Homo sapiens: one gene and its partners. The protein of the gene in region 3 purifies or fractionates together with the protein of the main gene of each other region. This does not show direct contact. Each region holds a gene or a part of one and is shown on either strand. Other genes may lie near its edges.

Region 1 (7,107 bases), on a different chromosome or scaffold from region 3:
CTTGAACCGGGAGGTGGAGGTTGCAGTAAGCCGAGATTGCACCACTGCACTCCAGCCTGGGCGACAAGAGCGAAACTCCATCTCAAAAAAAAAAAAAAAAAAAAAAAACAAACTATTCTGTATAGGTAATGAACGATTTTCAAAAATCTTAGATGAATCAATGAGATAACAGCCAAACACTCACTCAACTGGCATCTACTCAAAAAGCTATTGGTTTCTCATGATTAGCTTTGCCAAACCATCTCCCTAGATTATTTTTCTTTTTAAATTTCACTTTGCATTTGGTTAATCATTCCCTGGGAAAGCACACGGGGCAGGTGGGCCTCCTTGTCTTCACTTTGCCATTCCCTATCTGATGAATTCTGAACCTCAGTTTTTCATCCAAGAACTGGAGTTAAAACACCTGCACTATTATACAGGGCGTGAGGCTGTTGTCATGATAATCAATGAGCTGATGTGTGGTTGAAGCTCTTATCTGACTCCATAGATAGTTTTAAACTACCTAAGTATAAATTCAGCAGCTTTGCTTAAGATTTAAAGCAGGTATTATAAATATGCATTCCTTTGCCAATCTTTTAATAGAAGGACAGGCCTATTCTTTTGAAGATGGATCTGCTGATGAGAGCTCCCCTTTGTCTACTTTACATCAACCACACCCTTATTTCATTGTTTTGTGATTCCAGTGTTGGTTTCTTTAAAGTAAAGGAAGAATTTAGATATTTGCCGAGCCATTCTGAATATAGAAACTTCCTAGATCGCATATCCCTTGATCTTTTATCGTTAATTTACTCTCATCTAATTAACAGCGTTTTGTTTTTTTTTTTAGAAATTGACTTTTATTAAGTCTTTCCAAAGTAGCCAACTTAGTTTTCAAAGAAAATTTCTCTCTATTTTTATGTTCATCTAATCAGTGACAGTAATAAGTCAATCAGCTCATGTAATCCCAGTAACAAACAGCAGGATTGTGGACACACACAGTGGAGCCCTGATATGCTGCAGCTGGACAGTGGGAGCTGAGCAGGCAGGGCACCCCCCCCCCCCCGCCCCGCCGGCCAGGACTCCAGGCCTTCGGTGTTCAGTCTTGCCATGGCATCAGTCATTGGTTTTGTATAGGGAGCAGAGAAGGTTATTTAATCTGGTTAGTCAGATAAGTGGAGTTTACTCGTATGTGAAATTGCTTTCTTTGCTGTGCTGTGAGGAGCTGTACAAATATAAGGTGCTGTTACTGATTATTCAGCCAACATTTATGGACTACCAACTCTGTACCTGGCACAGTTTTGGTTCTGGGGTCAGAGATGACAAACTCCTACCCTGGGAGTCCACTGAGCGACCATACCAATAGGTCATGGCCTCAGAGCCGCGTGGCCCACGGCCCCTGTGACTCTCTCTGCTGTGGACCTTTCTCCTAGAACCCGATCATCAGCCAGTTCTTCCCCACCCTCCTGCTCTGGTCCTTCTCGGCCCTGCTCCCCTCCATTGTCTACTACTCTACACTGCTGGAGTCTCACTGGACCAAGTGAGTGCCCGGGAGCCCCGAGGCCCTGCCCCTAAGAAGGATATCTCTGACCGCTCCCTTGTCCACACCCTAACCCCCCAGCTGCTCAGGCAGTGGGCACATGGCAGGGGCCTCACTGGGGGCACATAGAGCATTTGGGGGACTGCGAGTGCTCACCTTTGACTTCCTGCAGGTCGGGGGAAAACCAGATCATGATGACCAAAGTCTACATATTCTTGATCTTCATGGTGCTGATCCTGCCCTCCCTGGGTCTCACCAGGTATATGCCACCACCTTCTGCTCTAAATTCAGAATAAGAGTCACATCAGGAGAGCACTGTCCCCAGGAGAATGCAAACGGTTTGGCAGCAGAAGCAAACCTCTAACAATATCTAAGCCTGTCGCAACCACTCGGCGTGCAGTAGGGCTGGGTCATTGATTCTTCTGGCAATATGATTGATTGTTCTTCTTTAAAAAAGAAAAAAACACCATATTGGTCAGGCTGTTCTTGAGCTCCTGACCTCAGGTGATCCACCCGCCTCGGCCTCCCAAAGTGCTGGGATTACAGGCGTGAGACTCTGTCTCAAAAAAAAAAAAAAAAAAAACCAGCTTGAAAATTTTGTGGCCAGGCACAGTGGCTCACGCCTGTAATCCTAGCATTTTGGGAGGCCGAGGTGGGCAGATTGCTTGAGCCCAGGAGTTCCAGCCTGGGCAGTCTGGCGAAACCCCATCTCTACAAAAGAGAAAAGAAAATGAAACTTATCAAGGACCTTCCACTTAGGGAAGGCCTCATCATGGCTTTATTTATCTCAAGGAAGGAAGTTTCTGTTAAAGCAGACTGTGACAGGTCATGCCGTAGTAAGTGGCATCGTTGAGAACAAAAGTCAATCTCGAGCTTTGGCCTGTTTTTAGAGCAAAAGAAAATGAAAGCATGTGTAGTGACAATATGGAATGCTGGAAATAAACTCTTAGGGGGTTCCTTTGTTTTTCAGTCTAGATTTTTTCTTCCGGTGGCTCTTTGACAAAACTTCCTCGGAGGCCTCCATCAGGTTGGAGTGAGTATTGCCAAGTTGAGTTCTGGAGCCATGGCCCTGGGTGAAAGTCCCACAGGGGCTGGGGCTGCAGTGGGATGGGTGGGGGCGGTCGTAGCCTATGCTTCTGAACAGGCATCTTCCTCCCCAGACAGCAGGGCTTGGGGCCTCACCTCCACCCTGCCAGGTTTCTGGTAGACACTGTGGGAGCTGACCCACTTTGTGCTATGCTTGCAGAAATGTGGTTAATTTTTTAGGCCAGAACTCAATTAGCAGCTGTCTCATTCATTGAAACTTACTGAGCACAGAGTCACATGGGGAGAAGGAATTGCTGGGTCTCAGTGGTGCCAGGGAGTGGGGAAAGGAGAATAATAATTAAAGATGGCAGCCAGGATGCCTCTGGGCTCTGGGGATTATTTTTGCCAGAATAGAATTAAATTTATTACTGATGTATCCTTGTTAGTATTTTAAACTTATACCATGCCACTTAATAGTAATAGCTATTGTTTAAGAAGGCACTATGCTAAATGCTTTATGCATCTTTTTCTCACTGTATCTTTACAATGAGCTATGAGGAAGATACTATTATTCTCTCCATTTTACAGATGAGGAGACTGAGGTTTGGAGACGTTGAATAACTTGCCCAAGTTTATCCAGCTGGTTAAGGAACAGAGCTGGGATTCAACCCCAGCCCCTACAGACTATACATTAGGTCTTAATATAGGTCCAGAGGCTTGGCATTGACTTTCCTAAAAGAATGTGCTTACCTGTAAGGATGGGGCGAGTTATTTTAAATGAGTTCTTGCTGAGTAAGCTGATGAGTTGGGAGCTGATGACTGTGACAGACACACATACATACAGCCAGCAATAGTCTAGGTTGACAGTGACTTTCAGATTGACAAGTCCAGTGACCAGCTCAATCCTCATCTTATGATCTATCAGCGACATCTGACACATTTATCCGAGCCTTCCTCCTCGAAGCTCGGCCTTGGGTCTCTCATCTCGCAGCATCCTCTTGTCACCCTCCTTGGTGGGTTCTCTCCCATCTCCCCAACTCTAGATTTTGGCTGCCTGAAGGCTCAGCCCCCAGTTCTGGGTCCACACTGCCTCTCTAGGTGACTTCAGCTGAACCCACGGCTTCCATGCCATGATACTGCTCCTGAATTAACTTATGCGGACAACATCCACATTTATGCCTCTAGCCTGCACCTCCAGGCTGGTAACCCAACTGCCCACCTCAAACTCTAGCTGGAGTTTTACTGGGTACCACGGATGTTACCTGCCCAAAACCAAACTCTCGACTTTTACCCTCAAATCTGCTACTCTACAACTTTCCCCATTCCATATTGTTTTTCTACTTGTTTTGGCAAAAAACCTCAAAGTTCACCTTGTTTCCTTTCTATCCCTCCCATGCCATACCCAGCCTACCAGAAAATCCTGACAACTCTCTCTAAAGTAGATCCAGAATCCCTTCATATCTCACCACCTCCATCACAACCGCCCTCATCCCACATGGGGATGACACAGTGGCCATCTGTGTAGTCTCCCTGACCCCATTGGAACAGATCCCTTGTCCTGGGCTGGCCCCCAGCCCCTTTCAGCCTTGTCTTCTGCCTCCCCTCGCCCACTGCTGTCCAGCCCCTGGATGTGCAGCAGACGAGGACATCCTCAGGTGTCTTGTATGTTGTTCCCTTTCCCTGGAATCCTGTCTTCCCAGGTTTGGGGATGACTTGCTCCTTCACCTCTTCACATTTCTGCACGAATATCACCTCGTTAGAAAGGCTCCTCCAACCCCTGTATGACATAGGAACCCTCCCTGCTTTGTTTTCCTCTAGTGCTCACCGTCCCCAGCAGATGGAATATTTGTTTGTCTGCTTGTTTGTGCCCCCAGCTAGAATGTGAACTTCAAGAGAGTGGCGCAGGGGCTTTGTTCTATTCTCAGTGCCTAGAAAGGTGCTTGGCACACAGATGTGTTTCCCAAATATGTGCTGAATGAACGGAAGAGTATACAGCCCTCCCAGGGGCTTTCTGCTCCTGCCCAGCCTAGGGGCCCCTCCTCTCCCTCCAAGAGCGGCTCTCAGCTCACAGACCTGGGCCCTGGTTTCCCCAGGTGCGTCTTCCTGCCTGACCAGGGTGCCTTCTTTGTGAACTATGTCATCGCCTCGGCCTTCATCGGCAATGGCATGGAGCTGCTGCGGCTGCCAGGTCTCATCCTCTATACCTTCCGCATGATCATGGCCAAGACGGCTGCTGACCGCAGGAATGTCAAGCAGGTGCCATCCCCTGGGCCCAGGGCTGTGCCTCTGACTCCCTCCCATGTCCCCCTTCACTGACCCGAGGGCCTCTCACCCCCACTACCCCCACTAGTGGGTAGCATTTACCTGACTACCCACTAGTGCAGGCACTGGGCTAAGTGCTTCTCAAACCCGGGTCCAGGCAGGCGTGGCCTCCTCCAGCCTCCTCTCTAGCTCACAGGCTGGAGGAGAGAGCTTGGGACTTTGGCATTTGAAACGGTTTGATCGCACACATACATACATACAACTCAAACCAACAGACTCTTTTTCTGTAGGCACCCATTTGCATAAATTCTTAGCCAAACCCCAGATGTCAAAGGCATTTTCGGCTTGTGGCATTTATTCCAGGATTCCCTGAACTGGAGGGTGTGGCTTTCTCTTTTATTCTCCTCTGCCATGGTGGGCACTGTGCGAGGAAAGTGGGAGAAGTGCTGCATTCCTTCATTTCATTCTCAGCCCCCTTATGAGCTGGGCACTGCTAGTATCCCGATTTCACAGAGGCATGAACTAAGCTGGCCCAGGATCCCCTGCTAGAAGGGCTGGAGTCACTCTACACCTCTTCCCTGACCACCTCTTCCCTCCAGGGGCTCACATGCCTGTTGGGTGGAACGAAGGGAGCACTAGCAAACACGCATCACCATGCCTCGGGAGGGCTGGGTGCACTGAGTGAAGCAGGGCAGGCTGGGAGGGATGGGAAGGACCTTGGGAGGCGGGGAGCCACGCATCTCCTATTTCCAAAGTCCTCCTCCACCCTGCTCTCCCATCACCACTTAGAGAGCACAAAAGGGTGTTTGAGGTGGAACAAGTCCATGAGCTCCTCACCACCTCCTCCTCCCAGAACCAGGCCTTCCAGTACGAGTTTGGAGCCATGTATGCATGGATGCTGTGTGTCTTCACTGTCATCGTGGCCTACAGCATCACTTGTCCCATCATCGCGCCATTTGGTGAGTGGCCCTGGAGCCTGTCCCAGGGTACATGGGTACATGGACGGCTGATTGCACCAAACCTCTCGGGGACAGCTATCACCAGGGCACAATGGAGTTCCCAAAACCACAGCCACAAGAGCCACAAGCTGCTAAAGACTCACGTGACACCAGATTTCACTCATTTCTTTCTTTTTTTGTTTTGAGACAGGGTCTCATGCTGATGCCCAGGCTGGAGTGGCATGATCTTGGCTTACTGCAACCCCCACCTCCTGGGCTCAAGCCATCCTCCCATCTCAGCCTCCTGAGTAGCTGGGATTACAGGTGCCCGCCACCATGCCTGCCTAACTTTTTGTATTTTTAGTAGAGATGGGGTTTCACCATGTTGGCCAGCCTGGTCTTGAACTCCTGACCTCAGGTGATCCACCCGCCTCAGCCTCCCAAAGTGCTGGGATTATAGGCATGAGCCACAGCACCCGGCCTCATTCATTTTTAAATGAATTCCTCCCACTGGCCCTCAGCTAGGACCTCTCTTAGTATTTCTGGTCTGAGGTTCTCTGCCCACTGACTATGTCGTTCATGGTTGATTTCTTTAGCAGCAAGTAAGACAGTGCCAGAGTCACAATCAAAGCTCTCGTGCTGCTTTCACTCTGGCAGATGCCTGCCTCCACGTGGATTACCACATTTCTCACCTCATCCTACAAGGCAGTTCCTGTTTCTATTCCCCCTTCACACAAAATAACTTCGTATGTTGTTAGTAAGCAGGAGAACCAGCCTTTGAACTCAGGACTGTTTAAAGACCAAGGTCCTGGCCACTGAAATAAAACATCTGCAACTGGCAGATTAATGAAAGGCTCTAGAAGGAAACAAAAAACCCAAGAGACTGCTGGCAGTGATAGCTGAGTTTTAGGGGGAAAAGTTGTTTTAGTTTTCCCTGTATACTTTCTTGTGTAGTTTTAAAAATCTACAGTATTTACACTTTCAAAACAAAATTTATTTTTTAAAAAAGAACCTGGGGCTGGGCACGATGGCTTATGCCTGTAATCCCAGCACTTTGGGAGGCCTAGGCAGTGCATCACCTGAGGTCAAAAGTTCAAGAACAACCTGGCCAATATGATGAAACCCTGTCCCTACTAAAAATACAAAAATTAACTGGGCATGGTGGCAGGCGCCTGTAATCCCAGCTACTCGGGAGGCTGAGGTAGGAGAATCACTTGAACTCAGGAGGCAGAGGTTGCAGTGAGCCAAGATTGCACCAGTGCACTCCAGCCTGACCAATGAGCGAGACTCCATCTCAAAAAAAATAAAAAATAAAAAAACAAAAGAACCTGGCATAATAGAAAAGGCAGCACCCACTTTCTGTTG
Region 2 (7,107 bases), on a different chromosome or scaffold from region 3:
ACATTCATTTGTTTAAAACTCTCACTTTTAAGGTCTAGTAGTTTTCTCAAGTAGGTGGCAAGTGCATGGGGTGTTGAGACACCATAAAAAAACAGGTACGTGGCTCCAGACAGACATGAAGTTAACTCTCCTCTCCTCGTCACTCTCCACATCCAATCCATAAACAAGTCCTGTCGACCCGACTCCCCAAACACATCCCAAATCTGCTCCCACAGTCTTCTGCCTGGCTCAAACAGCCTCCTACCTAGTGGTCTCCCTGCTCCCTGTACCCCTTATAATCCATTCTCCACATTATCTGCAAAACGTGAATAGGATACAATGACTTAAACATTTAAAATATTACAACTGCTTCTCACTGCAATTAAAGTCTAAACTCTTTTCGGCGCTCCTGCCACCCCTCTAACTTCATGTCTTGCTCTGTTTCTCACTAGCACTGGTCTCTGATGTTTCCTCAAACTTGCCAAATGTGTGTGCATCTCAGGGCCACTGTACAAGCTGCCCCTATTCCTAGAAGGACTTCTGCCAAGTCCTCAAAGCACTGGCTCCTCTTCACTATCCGATCTCAGCTTAAAAGTCACCTCCTCAAAGATAACTCCCTCAACTCACTTCCCACTCTGCCCTCCCATCCTATTGCTCTGTTATTTTCTTCACTTCCATTAGAAATTCTGTTTATTTATTTTCATGTTTTATTGGCTTGTTTGGGTGTTCTTGGTCTATCTCCCACAAGCCAGAATCCTCAGCCCTGCCCAAACAACGTAAGCTTCTGGAGGAAAACCAACAGGGTACCTTGGGAAGAAAAACTCTTGAGCTAGTCATTGTATCTTGTGAGATACAACGAAATAGAACCTAGAGGCAGACATAAGAAAAGAGTGAAAATGTACATGTCTTACCATACAATAGAAACTACATCTAACATTTACTTCTGTGCAATATGGAATTTGGTGGGTCTGCATCCCAGTTCCTGGGCGGTGGGTAACCTCTAAACCCTTGGAACTTCCTGAGAGATAGGAGTGCCTTTTTATTCACAGTGGGACCCTAGGACTACGCCTGATAGTTTATGCCAGTGAAGTGGCTCATGGTGGACCTCTAGAGAGTTTGTGCTAATGAGATGACTCAGGGTGGAGGCTGGCCATGCCAGAAGATCAACCATGTGATTGGAGAACTGGAGCTTTGAGCCACATATTACTGGCCATCTTCCAGGGGGAGGATGATACTGGAGATGGGTAATGATTCAATTAATCATGCCCACATAATTAAGCCTCAATAAAAACCCTGGCCAACGAAGCTCAGCACTCTGGGTCAGCTCCCTTCACTGGCAAGAGTCTTGATGAGTACTGTCACATTCAGATGCTGTGGGGGTAACACCCTGAGTGCCTCCCCCTGGAGTACTCCCTACAACCCCTCACCTGATAAGATCCAAGGGCTGCTTTTTGTATATGCTTCGAGGATGAGCCCATTCTCTGTACAGAAGGTACCGTTCATTAGGGCAGCTGGGATCCTCTGACTGACGGCGGAATTTGCACTGTGACGCAGAAGGGAACATGTAAGCACCATAATCATCGTGTTTTCACAAATCTGCTTCTTAAATGTGATACAAATACTTGATAGTCAATTGTGAACAAGGGGTCCTCACCTTCTGGAAAGGGTGGAAATACCATCTAATTTTTAGTGATTCTTAACCAGGCATGGTACTACCCTCCTTGGGGGTCATTTATGAATGTGGGCAGGGATGAACGATTGGGTGTTACAATCCTGGGGAGCACTGCAGGGACTCTGTGAGGGCCCCAGAGATGCTTAAAATGCTTTAAGTGGGGCAGTCCTACACAATGAAAAATTGGGCCACCCAAGTGCCCAAATCACCACACCAGAGGAACACGTGATAACCCACCCCTCTCCTTGGACAATGGGGAAACCAAGGCCTTGGCTGGTTAGCAGCAGGGTCAATTCTAAAACCTAGGCTTCTTTGCCCCCAGTTCAGCAGTTATTCTGTGATAACATACAGAAAACAAACAATAAAGCTGGGTATCATGTTACACACTTAGCTTATTCAAGAAACAAAACTTCCTGCTTAAATCCAGTTGCCTTTTTTTCTGACTCATTTTTCTTCTTCTGGCACTAGAACCAGATTACCACCCAGCCAAATCAGGGCACAGGCCCTGACCTTCACACACCTCCCTCTCAAATACCACATGGGACCATTTGTTAGCCTGAATACAGGACCACTGCAATTAGAAGAGGCTTTAGTGGAAAAGACATGGCCAAAAGCAAATGTCAACTGTTAGAGAACCCTGGCATCCCAAATTAATATTCGTGACAGCTATTTGCAAGTGGCCTCAAAATTCATGTCCTGTTATTCGCAATTAGCTAAATTCAGTGGGGCACAAAAGTAAAACACATGGACTCTCAGGCTGGATGGCTACATTGGGTCTCTTAGGATCAGTATTTACCTCACCCAGCTCCCTGTTCTCTACTTTTCCATGTGTATCAAGCTGCTGTTTAGTGTCCTAGTTTTATTATGTTATTCAGTACATTTCAATATCGTCTCTATCCACAAATACATGTACTACACAGTAGCAATTACCAATCTCAGTCTTTACTTTCTTTGGTCTTACACAGTCAGATAAATTGATAGTGAATATAACAAAGTAATAATGCAATATAATATAGTATTTAATTTATTTCAATGACAGAGTTTAAACAGCTTTAGTTATAATGTCCCTGCATTTACAGTGGTCACATTTTAAAAATTTCATTTCACGAGAGATGTTCTCGGCTAGAGAAGTACTCTTGAATTTGAGGGGTTGCTGTGGTCTCAGAATGTAGTCCTTAAAAAAATGTCAACCATCTGGGGTACTGCCATTGTCACAACAACCCTGACAGATGCCTTTTTAAAAGCCCAGGGATATTCCAGGGGACAGTTTGAAAATCGTATTCCAAATGAGGAAGAAAAGTCTATGTTGCAGAAAATGATAAATGAGAAGGTCTAACATGTATTTTGCTGACAAAGAACTAATCTTTTCTGGTTGATAATAACATCTGTTAGTAATTATGAAAACAGCTAACACTTATAATAGTATTTATTATATGCTAGGGACTAACATTTGGATTAATTTAATGGATTAATTTAATCCTCTTAACAACTCTAGGAGGTAGGTAATAATTTATCCCCAGCTTATTGATGAGGAAATGGAGGAAGAAAGGCTAAATGACTTTCACAAGGTCATCCAGCTAGAAAGTGGCAGGGCAGGCATTTTGGTCTCAGAAATGCTAACACAGATTAACTGCTAATCTATACTGCTTTACACATTAACTGTGAGAGAGGTCCTGTCCATTCATTCATTCGCTCCTTTAAAACTGAGTATCTTTATAACTGGGATCCATCTGTGAACAAAAGACCTAGTTCTTACCCTAAATGAGCTTGTAATCTTGCAGTATGTTCCCTTCATTTTACTGAGGAAGAAACTTACAGTCAGGAAAGTTAGCCCTTTGCTATTGTCAACACCAGAGTATACAGAAGGCCTTTTAGTTCATTTTTGCCTTTTAACTTACATCATGGAGTGGGAAAGCTGCCTTGTAGATCCCAGAGTTTACAAGTCTGTTGATCCCAAACTTGCTAACATTGTTTATCACTTGATACTTGACCCGAGAGAGGATGAAGTAAACCTAAAAAGATTCCAAAATAGAGTATGCGGTTTATATAGTGTAATTAACCAATCCAATCATTGTTTACTACTGTAACACAAATCTGCTGGCATATTTCTTTTCTTTTTGTGCAGTTTTTAAAAATAAAACCAAACCAACCAAACCACAAAACAGCAGGTTCCAAATTACCCCAAGACAGCAACTAAATTTGGTTTAGACTTACAATGCGGCTTCTGGTGGCTGGATTGAAGAAAGCATCTCTATCAACTATGTAAAAATCATTCATCCGGTTCTTCTCAAATGGGGCAGTGAAAAACTCTTGCTCTGGCTTGATGATGCTTTCGTCTACACTGAGGACTTTGGTAAACCAGTTGAGTGTACCAAAGGCTGAGGACCGGTTTTTCAGATCATTGGGTTTCAGAGGCAATTTGATGTGCATTATCTCAGCATACGTACATAACACCTCCCATGGTGCGTGTACTTTTACAAATACAAGCTTGTCATCCAATACCTATATTGGAAAAATAAAAACGCAGAACAAGAAACCAACTCTTTTCACAATTTTAAAACACATAGATTTTTCTTATGTTGTTGGTAGCTTTAAAAAAACAATACAGAGACCACCACTAAAAGTGAAGATAACAATAAAAACAGATTTGCAAACCATCATAAATTTTTGTCTTAAAGACGATTTCTTGGTTTGAATCATTAAGGAAGTAATTCAAATCATCATAGTTCATAAAACTATGAAAATAATTTATAAAATGAAGAAAACCAAACTTATTTGTCTATCACTCTACCCTAATTATTGACTTAAAGTAAAAACACTAGAATATTCATTGTAGTGCTAGCATAATGAAAAATTTTTAATTTTCTAAACCTCGAATGAACTTATTGTCTATCTGTTCAATATCATATTATGTGGCTGTTAAAAATGTCAAAGAATTATATTTATTGACATAAATCCATTTGCTATATATTAAAGGGAAAAAGCAAATTATAAAACTGTGAAGTGGTAATTTTCTCCTTTTTGAAAGATAAAAAATGTGTACATATATATTTTTGAGTAAAACAGCTCAGAAGGACTGCAAAATTATTTATGGATAATTAAGATACAGATTATTTTCCTTATTCTTATGTTTTCTAATTTTTTACCATAAACTATTTTTTGTATAACAAAAAAGCTTTTAGAAGTTTCTTAAAGAAAGAAAATAATCATTCATACATGCATTCATTGTAAAATTCGTTGGCTATTAAAAAAGATCTGCTAGTTTTGATCAGAAAAAAAGAATACATCCTACACAATGCAGATTTTGATTGACTCCTCTCCCAGTCTATGACTAAGATGTGGCCAGGGCTGCATGTTTCCAATGTCACCCAAGTATTCCAAGTGGCACGAAGCTGCCCGAGAACAGTGGTCAGCCGAGGGCTGAAAAGGGACCAGTACTTACTGATCTTGTTGCTTCTAACTGCAGGCCATGACAGATAAGGTTAGATTCGTATGCTTGTCTTTTCCTCTGTCAAAAGAAGTTGGAATATATGTTAGACCTTTAGTTTACCAAAGGCAGAAAAAGGCATTTTTTAAAACAATATTAATAACAAAATCAAACTAGCGTGGACCTGAAAAAGAAATGCATCAGCATTTGGTCAAGCAAATGGAATAGAAGAAATGAAGCAGCTCTTGCTGCTGGTGACATGTAAGTGTTGGATCCCCAAGAGAATGCCGTGGAGGGTACTTCGATGCCCTGGCACCCTGGAAGGCCCTTGGCTGTCCTGGTGTGGTTTCAGTCATCTGAGGTAAATAACAGTATCCTGCTTTGACACAATCCCACGTACTTTTTGGCTCATAAAAGCATACAAATTGAGCTTTCTGAGTCCTATTCACTGATACGAGTTTTCAGAGTTGAAGATTCCAGATTTTAAAAATTTGGTTTCCATACCAGACATTCAAATGGTTCAATTACTGGATGTGTATGCGTCATCCCTGCATATCTTGACCAAATTCAATAAAACAACACAGGCAATTTTGGCAAAATTCAGATAATTTTTTTCTCTCTGCAAGACTGAGATGTTTGTGAAGCTATGTCTAAATCCATAAAAATAGTGAACTAAATTGATATCTATATTACATGGCCATTTCAAAAGATACAGAATATACTACACTTATGGATATTAAATTCTAGATGCCTAGGCTTTTGCCAAGCTGTGCCCAAAGTTGTAAGGGAAGCATGCAAAGATGGAGACTTGTTTGACCTTTTAAAAAGAATGCTTTTCATGACAAAACAGTTTATACTGCTTTGTGAAATGAAGAAAATGAGTAGACACAGAGGTTAAGAACACAAGCTCTGCTATGGTTTAAATATGTCCCCCAAAAATCATGTTAGAAACTTAATCCCCAATGCAACAGTGTTGAGAGGTGGGGCCTACTGAAGGGTAATCAGGCCACAAGGGCAGACTTAACAAATTAATGACATTATCACAGGAGGGAGTTTATTAGCATGGAATGAGCTCCTTATAAAAGTTTGGCCCCCTTTTGTTTCTAACCCCCCCGCCCCATTTTTGTTTCTCCCTACCACCTCTCTCTCCCCCACCACCGTGGGGGTGACACTGCAACAAAGTCCTCACCAGATGCCAGCCCCCTTGATCTCAGACTTCCCAGCCTACAGAACTGTGAGCCAATCAATTTCTGTTCTTTATAAATTAGTCTGTGGAATTCTGTTACAGCAGCACAAAATGGACCAGAATGAGCTCTGTAACCACACTTCCTGGGTTCAAAATCTGATTTATTATTCATCAACTCTATGACCCATGACAAGAAAATTAAACTCTCCATGCCTCATTTTTCTTCATCTGTAGAACTAAGAAAACCCACTTGTTTCCTTTTTAGGGTCTTGTGAAGATATGATTTAAACTACATAAAGCACATGAAGTAGAATTTTCATTTCCAATAGTGACAAAAGGTAACTTGGGGCAAGCCTTACACTGAAGACAGCTGAAAACGCTGGGTGGAATATTTAGCACAGCAGTTAACAAGACAGAGAGGAACTGCTAGGTCCAGGTCGAGATCATCTAGTGGGTCTGGCAGTCAGACACTTTACCCAGGGAACAATACTCATGATCTGCCCACTCTAAAGGGACAGAGTGGGGATGAGTTGCTGTGCTATGCACAGGGCCTAGAACATAAAAAAAATCCCATAAACTAGAAGTAGGTGAAGCTGCAGGAAAAAGACCAAAGGTCAAAAAGTAAAAGAATATACCTGGTATTTGGCTACATTTGAGTCCAAGTGGAATCCCTGATGTATTGTGTTGAAGTATCAGAAAAAGGATATTGCTTTGTTTTTATATCTTTAATAAATGGTTGTACAGTACTTAAAACATGCCAGACACTGTTCTAAGAGCTGTTCAGATATAGTACATTTAACTATTGGCTGCAATTTGAACATACAATAGAGTAGCAGAGGAAAC
Region 3 (7,144 bases):
TGTAGCAGCCACCTACTGCCACTAACCACAGAGTGGCCACCAGGCATCTCCGGACACTGGCAGTTGGCAACCGCTCTGGTTCAGATCATCTGAAATGAAGCCCTACACAGCCCAAGGACACGCCCACGTCTGCAACAGAACGCACACTGAGAGCTTCCTGTTGCCTGGGAAACGTGTTAAATGTGCTACAGAGACACAGACTTGTATCCAACATTTCAGAGGTAGTCAGTATGCAGCAGGAAAACAAAATAAAACGCAGGCGTGAGTCACATTTTCTCTAAGCATGCTCGGGCCGTGATTCTCAATGTTTTTGGTGTCCGGGGAATAAGCTGAGCCCCATCCTATGCCTTTCACTTTCTTTTTCTTTTCCTTTTTTTTCTTTTATTTTTGAGACGGAGTCTCACTCACTCTGTTGCCCAGGCTGCAGTGCAGTGGCGTGATCTCGGCTCACTGCAACCTCCGCCTCCCGAGTTCAAGCAACTCTCCTGCCTCAGCCTCCCGAGTAGCTGGGATTACAGGTGCCCGCCACCACGCCTGGCTAATTTTTGTATTTTCAGTAGAGACGGGGTTTCACCATGTTGGCCAGGCTGGTCTCCAACTTCTGGCTTCAAGTGATCCACCTGCCTCGGCCTCCCAAAGTGCAGGGATTACAGGCGTGAGCCACCGCTCCCAGCCAATGCCTTTCACTTTCAAAAGTAATTCAGTAATAGAATCTTGTTGGCCAACACTGCGAGGACTTTTGCAGGTTCACCTATGTTTTTTTTTTTTTAATTACTGTTTTATTTGGAAAAAGTGCTTCTTGCAAAAGGGAAGCTGCAAAACAGAGACCTCTGCAACAATTACTTGTTTTTTCTTAAAGTGAAAGAATGGGTGGGATCCAAGGAATCAAAGCAGTAGATGGACGACCAGGAGCACCCCAAGTTATCTTCAGGAAACAGAGCGACAAAACGCAAAGGTAAAATTTCCAGTCAAGGAATTCTTCCAACAGCTGAACTTGAGCTGGCCTCGGGGATCCCCACACCCTCCCCTTCAGTGGACAATTATGACTTATTATTGCAAACAAATTACTCCACTACAATAAACACTGTAGAACAGGTTTTTGAATCCCATCTGTCCACCTGAGAGCTCAGGGGTGGAATGAGGCAAATACCCACAAACACACACACAAAAACCCGACAACAGAATGCTCCAGTGAGGACAAAGGTTTTTCAGAAAGGCTGGATCGTAAAACAAATACAACTGGTTCACCTGTGTGAAGCACGTCACTCACCGTAACCACCCTCTAGAGTGACATGGGTCCAGGGCGGATGCCGTGCAGCCCTCCAGGAGACCCGATGGGGCTTGGACCACTTGGGCACCATCTTGGGTCCCCAGATGGCTCTGGGGTCTGAAAAAGCGCCCCAGGTCGCAGTGTCCGCAGTTTGAATGAGCTTTGAGGCCAGTTTTGTGGAGGCCCAACATGACGGTTGCTCTCCGGAGCCAGGCTCTCATGCTACCCTTTTGACCCACTGACTCCTTGAGGCATTGCCCTTCTCCAGAGCCTTAACCACGATGACAGACACCGGGCCAGTTATTCTCCCCGGCTGCCCAGGTGCACCAGCTCAGGGCCGCCTCTCCCCAGCTCCACTCAGCTATCCTGGTTTCCCTCCTCTCAGTTCCCTCTGAGGAGGGTCCCCACTCACCTCTCAGGAGTTGGGCTGCTGTGGGAGGCTGAGAGAAGCAGGCGGAGGGGATGCCGTAATTGGTCTTCAGCACCTCCAGAAGATCTGCTGTGTACCTGGCGAGACACCAGCCTGTGCTCAGAACCATGGGGGCTGGGGGAAGGGGGAGGGTTGCACACTGGACCCTCAACCACTCCTGAGTGCAGGACTTTGTCCATTTCCCCTCAGGGCCTCTTTCTCTCTCTTTCTTTCTTTCCTTCCTTCCTTCCTTTCACTCTCTCTTTCTCTTTCTCTCTCCCTTCCCCTTCCCCTTCTCCTTCCTTCCTTCCTTCTGCTCTCTCTTTCTCTTTCTCTCTTCCTTCCCCTTCTCTTTCCTTCCTTCCTTCCTTCCTTTTTCTTTCTTTTTTTTTCTTTTTGAGACAGGGTCTTGCTCTGTTGTCCAGGCTGGAGTGCAGTGGTCTGTCTTGGCTCATACAGGCAGCCTTGACCTCCTGGGCTCAAGTGATCTACTCAACCCCCATCCCCATGAGTAAGCTGGGACTACAGGTGCACGCCACCAGGCCCGGCTAATTTTTTATATTTTTGGTAGAGACAGGATTTCGCCATGTTGCTCAGACACTGGTCTCGAACTCCAGGACTCAAACTGGAACTGGGCTTAAACTCCTGGACTCCCGCCTCAGCCTCCCAAAGTGCTGGGATTACAGGCGCCCGGCCTCAGGGCCCTTTTCTTAGAGGGAGTGGAGAACTGGCCCAGGTGGGGGAGTAAGACAAGCTGCCACCTAGCCAGGCTGTGCCTGGCTGCCGTGCCTGAAGAGCCCACCGTGGATTCTCTCCATGCGGGTCGGGCAGCAGCCCAGGGACTGACCAGAGAGGAAGAGCAGGATCCCAGAGGAAGGGTGAGTCCTTACAGACGGACGGGCCCCCTGCTGCTGAGGGATGCTGCCATTTCCTCTGCGAATGCCTTCCACAGCCCCCGCTCTGCGACCTTTCTCTCCCCACGCTGGGGGGCAAGGCCGAGGCCCTGGAGTGTCACACCCTGGCCCAAACCCACGTTGTCCCTGAGGACCTAGGAACAGCTAGAGCATTTCCAGTCCTGTCTCATTCTGAGTGCGGCCGCCAAAGGGCTCTGGGAGGGAGAGAGGACAGGCCGCGGGATAGGGGCCACCGCTGCCCAGCGACTGGCCCAGGGCCCGCCGCCCTCACTTACCTGGGGTCAAGCTTTATCTGGGTCCTGCCCGGCTCCATCGCCGCGTTCTCTCCAGCAATCCCGCAGGCACCGGGGTGAGGAAGGGCAGGCGGGGCGGGCAGGTGGGGGCCGGGGGCAGGGTGGCTTGCCTGGGCCGGGGTGGGGGGCAAGCAGAATTGCAGAGTCTTCCCCTCTGCCGCTCTCCCTCCTTGAGCTTCCCGGGCCAACTTTCTATCTCAGAGTTCACCCCGGAGGAATTTGATCCTCTAGGCTGGCGGAGTTCCCTGTGCCTGACTCGTCCCTGCCCCCAGGTGTGGTCCCTCCCACCTCTTGGACAGGTGCCTTTGGCCACCCCTTGCCTCTGGCCCGGCCCATCCTATAGGATTTTGCTGCCAGTCTGCCCTGCCCTTCCAGGAGCCTTCTGGGGTGGGGTGGGCTCACCACGAAGCCCCTGCCCTGGGCCGGGGTGGGGACGAAGTCCTCGCTCCTCACCGCAGTGTTCCCTGGTCAGCGGCCCCTGAAGAACCTGCTGGAACTCAGGCTTGGGCACTCTGCAGCGGGGAGACTCAGGGCTGAGGCCTCGGCCGTGTTTGGTGCTGTCAGCCTGATGTGTGGAAGGGAGGACAGGCTGGAAAAGCCAGATGAGGCCGGTGTGGGTTTCCCAGACCCCAGTTCATCACATCTGGATGATGGGCTTAGCCACCCCCACGCTGGGCCGGAAGATGCTGTATTTAAGAGGCAGAGTTGCAGAGTGAGATTGCTGGGCATTTGACAGGTCTTGAAAACCTGCTGAATTACAGGCTTGCAAACGATTTTATTGGCTGATAGCTTCCCTTTTCTCTCTCTCCACATAGACTGAAATCTCTTCGAAGCCAGACACAGCATCTTGTACTGTGGTACGGTGGTACCTCTAGGTTCCTGGCACGCAGCCTGACACATACGAAGGGCCCCTTAGAATTTGGTTGCATAGCTGATGAAAGCAGCCAGCGTCTGTCAGCATGTCTGGTGTGCCAGGGCCCGCAGGACATGCAGTGTGTTCCTTAGCTTATTTAAACTTTACCACCGCGTTACAAGGGAAGTAGTATCCTTATTCCCATTTTACAGATAAGGAGGCTGAGGTCCAGAGAGGCTAAGAAACCAGGTCAGACAGAAAGCTGTGGGGTGTGGAGAGCGGCCAAAGGGGCCTGGGGGAGGGGCTCTGTTGGGGCATGGTGGAGATGGAGGTAGTGAGAAGAGGGCCCAGGAGAGGGTGCAGAGGGTCAATTCTGGGAAGGGAGAGGGGGCTTCCTGCGCTGGGCTGGTGAGGCCATACAAGCAGTGGAAGCAGTCCCTGATGGGGTACCCGGAGGACTCCCCACTCCTGTGCCCAGACACCTCAAAGTCTCTCCCAAGAGTCAAGCTGCATCCCCCTCCAGCTTCCCCTCCTCCTAAAGTCCAGTTCCTGGGACAGGACAATGTCGTGAGGCAGGCGTCTCAGGGGCCAGCTGCCTCCTAAGGTGGAGGTCAGGGAAGGAAGAGGCCTGCAAGGGCCCTGACCCCCAGAGGGTCACTGGCCTCAGCCCACCCTGACAAAGACGCAGACTGACTCAGCTTCCTCCCAGCATCTCCGCAGGCACGTTCGCCAGGTCATTCACCCCCAGCCCACTGAGAGGCCTTGGGTTTAATTACCCAAAGCCCTGAACTTTAGACTTCCCAGAGCTGACAACAGGGCGCTGGGGATGTTCTTAGAAACTTCAGGACACAGTGGGGAATGGCAGGAAAGGTGAAAGGGCAGGAGGGAGCCGGGGGGGGCTGCGGTTGGGCTGAGACGGGTGCTTCCCCACTGGGCAGCAGAGACTGGGAGACCCCAGGAGAGACCGGCAGGGTGTCAGTGAGGGAAGGGGGCTTCTGCCCCACCCAAGGTCTCTACGGGGTTGTCTTCTGTACAGTGTGGCCCGGGATCCAGCCAGCGGGAGGCCCTGCCTGGAGGCCGGCCCATCCCCAGCTAAGGCTTGGTCAGAGAGGATGAGCTGTGGCCGCCAGGGTCTCCTCTTGGCAGTTGGGGCCTGCCAGCTCTCAGAAACTGATTTTAGAACCAAAAAGAATAAGTCCTTCTGAATTTCATTTCTTTGGCCTATTTTTTCCCACAAAATTATATGATAGCATCATCTGACACTTATTGAGACAGAGGAGGGATGGGACTCGGCTGCCAACTCCACTAATGCATTCGCTAATGCATTCCCCCCCCCAACATTTTTCTTTCTTCCTTTTTTTTTCTTACCTGCTCATTGAAGGACAGTGAAAGCATTAAGATAAGCAGCATTCCACTGTAAATCTTACACAAAATGCCACATCCACTGATCACACGACCTTGAAAAATGAAGATAGGCAGCGTCGCACTTCCAATCTTGTACTTCAGGGAATGAACTCCATTGCCTTTGTGTGCAGGAAGCCGGAAGCACGACCACTCTTTACCCTCGGCCTCATTACAAGACCAAGACCTCTGCCTCGGCGCGGCAGCTCTCACCTGGAATCCCAGCACTTTGGGAGGCCGAAGCGGACGGATCACCTGAGGTGTCAGGAGTTTGAGACCAGCCTGGCCAACAAGGTGAAACCCCGTCTCTACTAAAAATACAAAAATTAGCCAGGTGTGGTGGTGTAATCCCAGCTACTCGGGAGGCTGAGGCACGAGAATCGCTTGAACCTGGGAGGCGGAGGTTGCAGGGAGCCGAGATCTTGTCACTGCACTCCAGACTGGGTGACAGACAGAAACAAAACAAAAGCCTCTGCCAGGGAGAGGCTTTCTCGTCGTGTTCTGATCCTGCGATGTATGTGTTACCGCGATTCCTAACTATCCCTGTGCGTTCTGTCACTCCTGCAGGGACGCTCACCTACCTCATGAATTACGCGTGTCGCCCTCCTCGAGACGCCACAACGCAGTCCCCTGGGGAGCCAGCCGGAGACCTCTCCCTGCGGTGCTGTCTCCCCCGTGGTGGAACGGAAGCCCCTAATAAAGCCTTGTCTGGGAAATTTGCTTGGCCTCGTGTCAATTTTTATCGGAGCCTAAAGAACCTGTGGTCAGTAACACGATCATTTCAGTTATCACTTAAGTTTTGGCTTCCTTAATATGAGAGTCAGTTTTGAAAAATCAAAAAAGAGGCTGGGCGCCGTGGCTCACACCTGTAATCCCAGCACTTTGTGAGGCCGAGGCAGGTGGCTCACTTGAGGTCAGGAATTCGAGACCAGCCTGACCAACATGGTGAAACCCCATCTCTTAAAAATACAAAAATTAGGCCGAGTGCAGTGGCTCACTCCTGTAATGCCCGTACTTTGGGAGGCTGAGGTGGGTGGATCACCTGAGGTCAGGAGTTCGAGACCAGGCTGGCCAACATGGTGAAACTCCGTCTCTACTAAAACTACAAAAAAAAAATTAGCTGGGCATGGTGGCAGGTGCCTATAATCCTAGCTACTTGGGAGGCTGAGGCAAGAGAATTGCTTGAACCCGGGAGGCAGAGATTGCAGTGAGCTGAGATGGTGCCATTGCACTCCAGCCCGGGCGACAGAGTGAGACTCAGTCTCAAAACAACAACAACAAACCTCATCTCTTCCAGTCCCCCTCCTCCCACACCCTGGCAACTGTGAATCTGCTTTTGATCTCTATGGATTTGGCTACTCTGGATATTTCATGTAAGTGGAACCATACAATATGTGGCTTTTTGTGCCTAGTTTCTTCCATTTTGCATAATCTTTTCTTTTCTTTTATTCTGTGTTTTTGAGACATAGTTTCACTCTTGTTTCCCAGGCTGGAGTGCAATGGTGAGATCTCGGCTCACTGCAACCTCCGCCTCCCAGGTTCAAGCGATTCTCGTGCCTCAGGCTCCCGAGTAGCTGGGATTACAGGTGCGCACCACCACACCTGGCTAATTTTTGTATTTTTAGTAGAGATGTTGCAGGAAACTGAGGACTGGCAAGACTGAGACAGAGAACGAGAGGACTGTTTATTTCAGGTACGCACTGGCTTAGTGGACTGTCATCTAAAAAGCTGAGCATCGAACAAAGACAGAGCGGGGTTTTTATAAGCAGACTTCCAATAAATAAAAGTAGTTAATCATATGACAGGTCACATCATCTATAGCATAACTTGTGGCCTTGCATAGCTGGTGACTTTGTAGCTGCATTGAAAGAAAAACAAGAACTGGCTAAATACAGACATTTGTAAAACATAATCATGCTTAAGAAACCTGGGAAAGGAGTAACAGTCAAAGAATTTGTCTTTCTTTTTTTTCTTCAACTTTGCTCTGGAGGCGAGGGGTGTCTG

Evidence for each region.
Region 1: the proteins of SLC51A (region 3) and TMEM63A purify together in Homo sapiens (affinity purification with mass spectrometry; 2 studies listed by BioGRID and IntAct, with this or other methods). This does not show direct contact.
Region 2: the proteins of SLC51A (region 3) and ANO6 purify together in Homo sapiens (affinity purification with mass spectrometry; 2 studies listed by BioGRID and IntAct, with this or other methods). This does not show direct contact.

Annotation. Positions count from the first base shown.
Region 1 is NC_000001.11:225,851,320-225,858,426, reverse strand, and holds part of TMEM63A (mechanosensitive cation channel TMEM63A), read left to right. Parts: intron 1-1,409; coding exon 1,410-1,516; intron 1,517-1,688; coding exon 1,689-1,775; intron 1,776-2,486; coding exon 2,487-2,549; intron 2,550-4,635; coding exon 4,636-4,798; intron 4,799-5,657; coding exon 5,658-5,763; intron 5,764-7,107. UniProt on the Homo sapiens protein: Mechanosensitive cation channel with low conductance and high activation threshold. In contrast to TMEM63B, does not show phospholipid scramblase activity. Acts as a regulator of lysosomal morphology by mediating lysosomal mechanosensitivity.
Region 2 is NC_000012.12:45,345,074-45,352,180, reverse strand, and holds part of ANO6 (anoctamin-6), read right to left. Parts: intron 5,160-7,107; coding exon 5,094-5,159; intron 4,154-5,093; coding exon 3,866-4,153; intron 3,664-3,865; coding exon 3,550-3,663; intron 1,523-3,549; coding exon 1,407-1,522; intron 1-1,406. UniProt on the Homo sapiens protein: Small-conductance calcium-activated nonselective cation (SCAN) channel which acts as a regulator of phospholipid scrambling in platelets and osteoblasts.
Region 3 is NC_000003.12:196,212,475-196,219,618, reverse strand, and holds the start of SLC51A (organic solute transporter subunit alpha), read right to left. Parts: upstream 3,086-7,144; 5' UTR 2,907-3,085; coding exon 2,869-2,906; exon of another isoform or gene 2,583-2,868; intron 2,558-2,582; exon of another isoform or gene 2,307-2,557; intron 1,778-2,306; coding exon 1,683-1,777; intron 956-1,682; exon of another isoform or gene 607-955; intron 262-606; exon of another isoform or gene 1-261. UniProt on the Homo sapiens protein: Essential component of the Ost-alpha/Ost-beta complex, a heterodimer that acts as the intestinal basolateral transporter responsible for bile acid export from enterocytes into portal blood. Efficiently transports the major species of bile acids (taurocholate).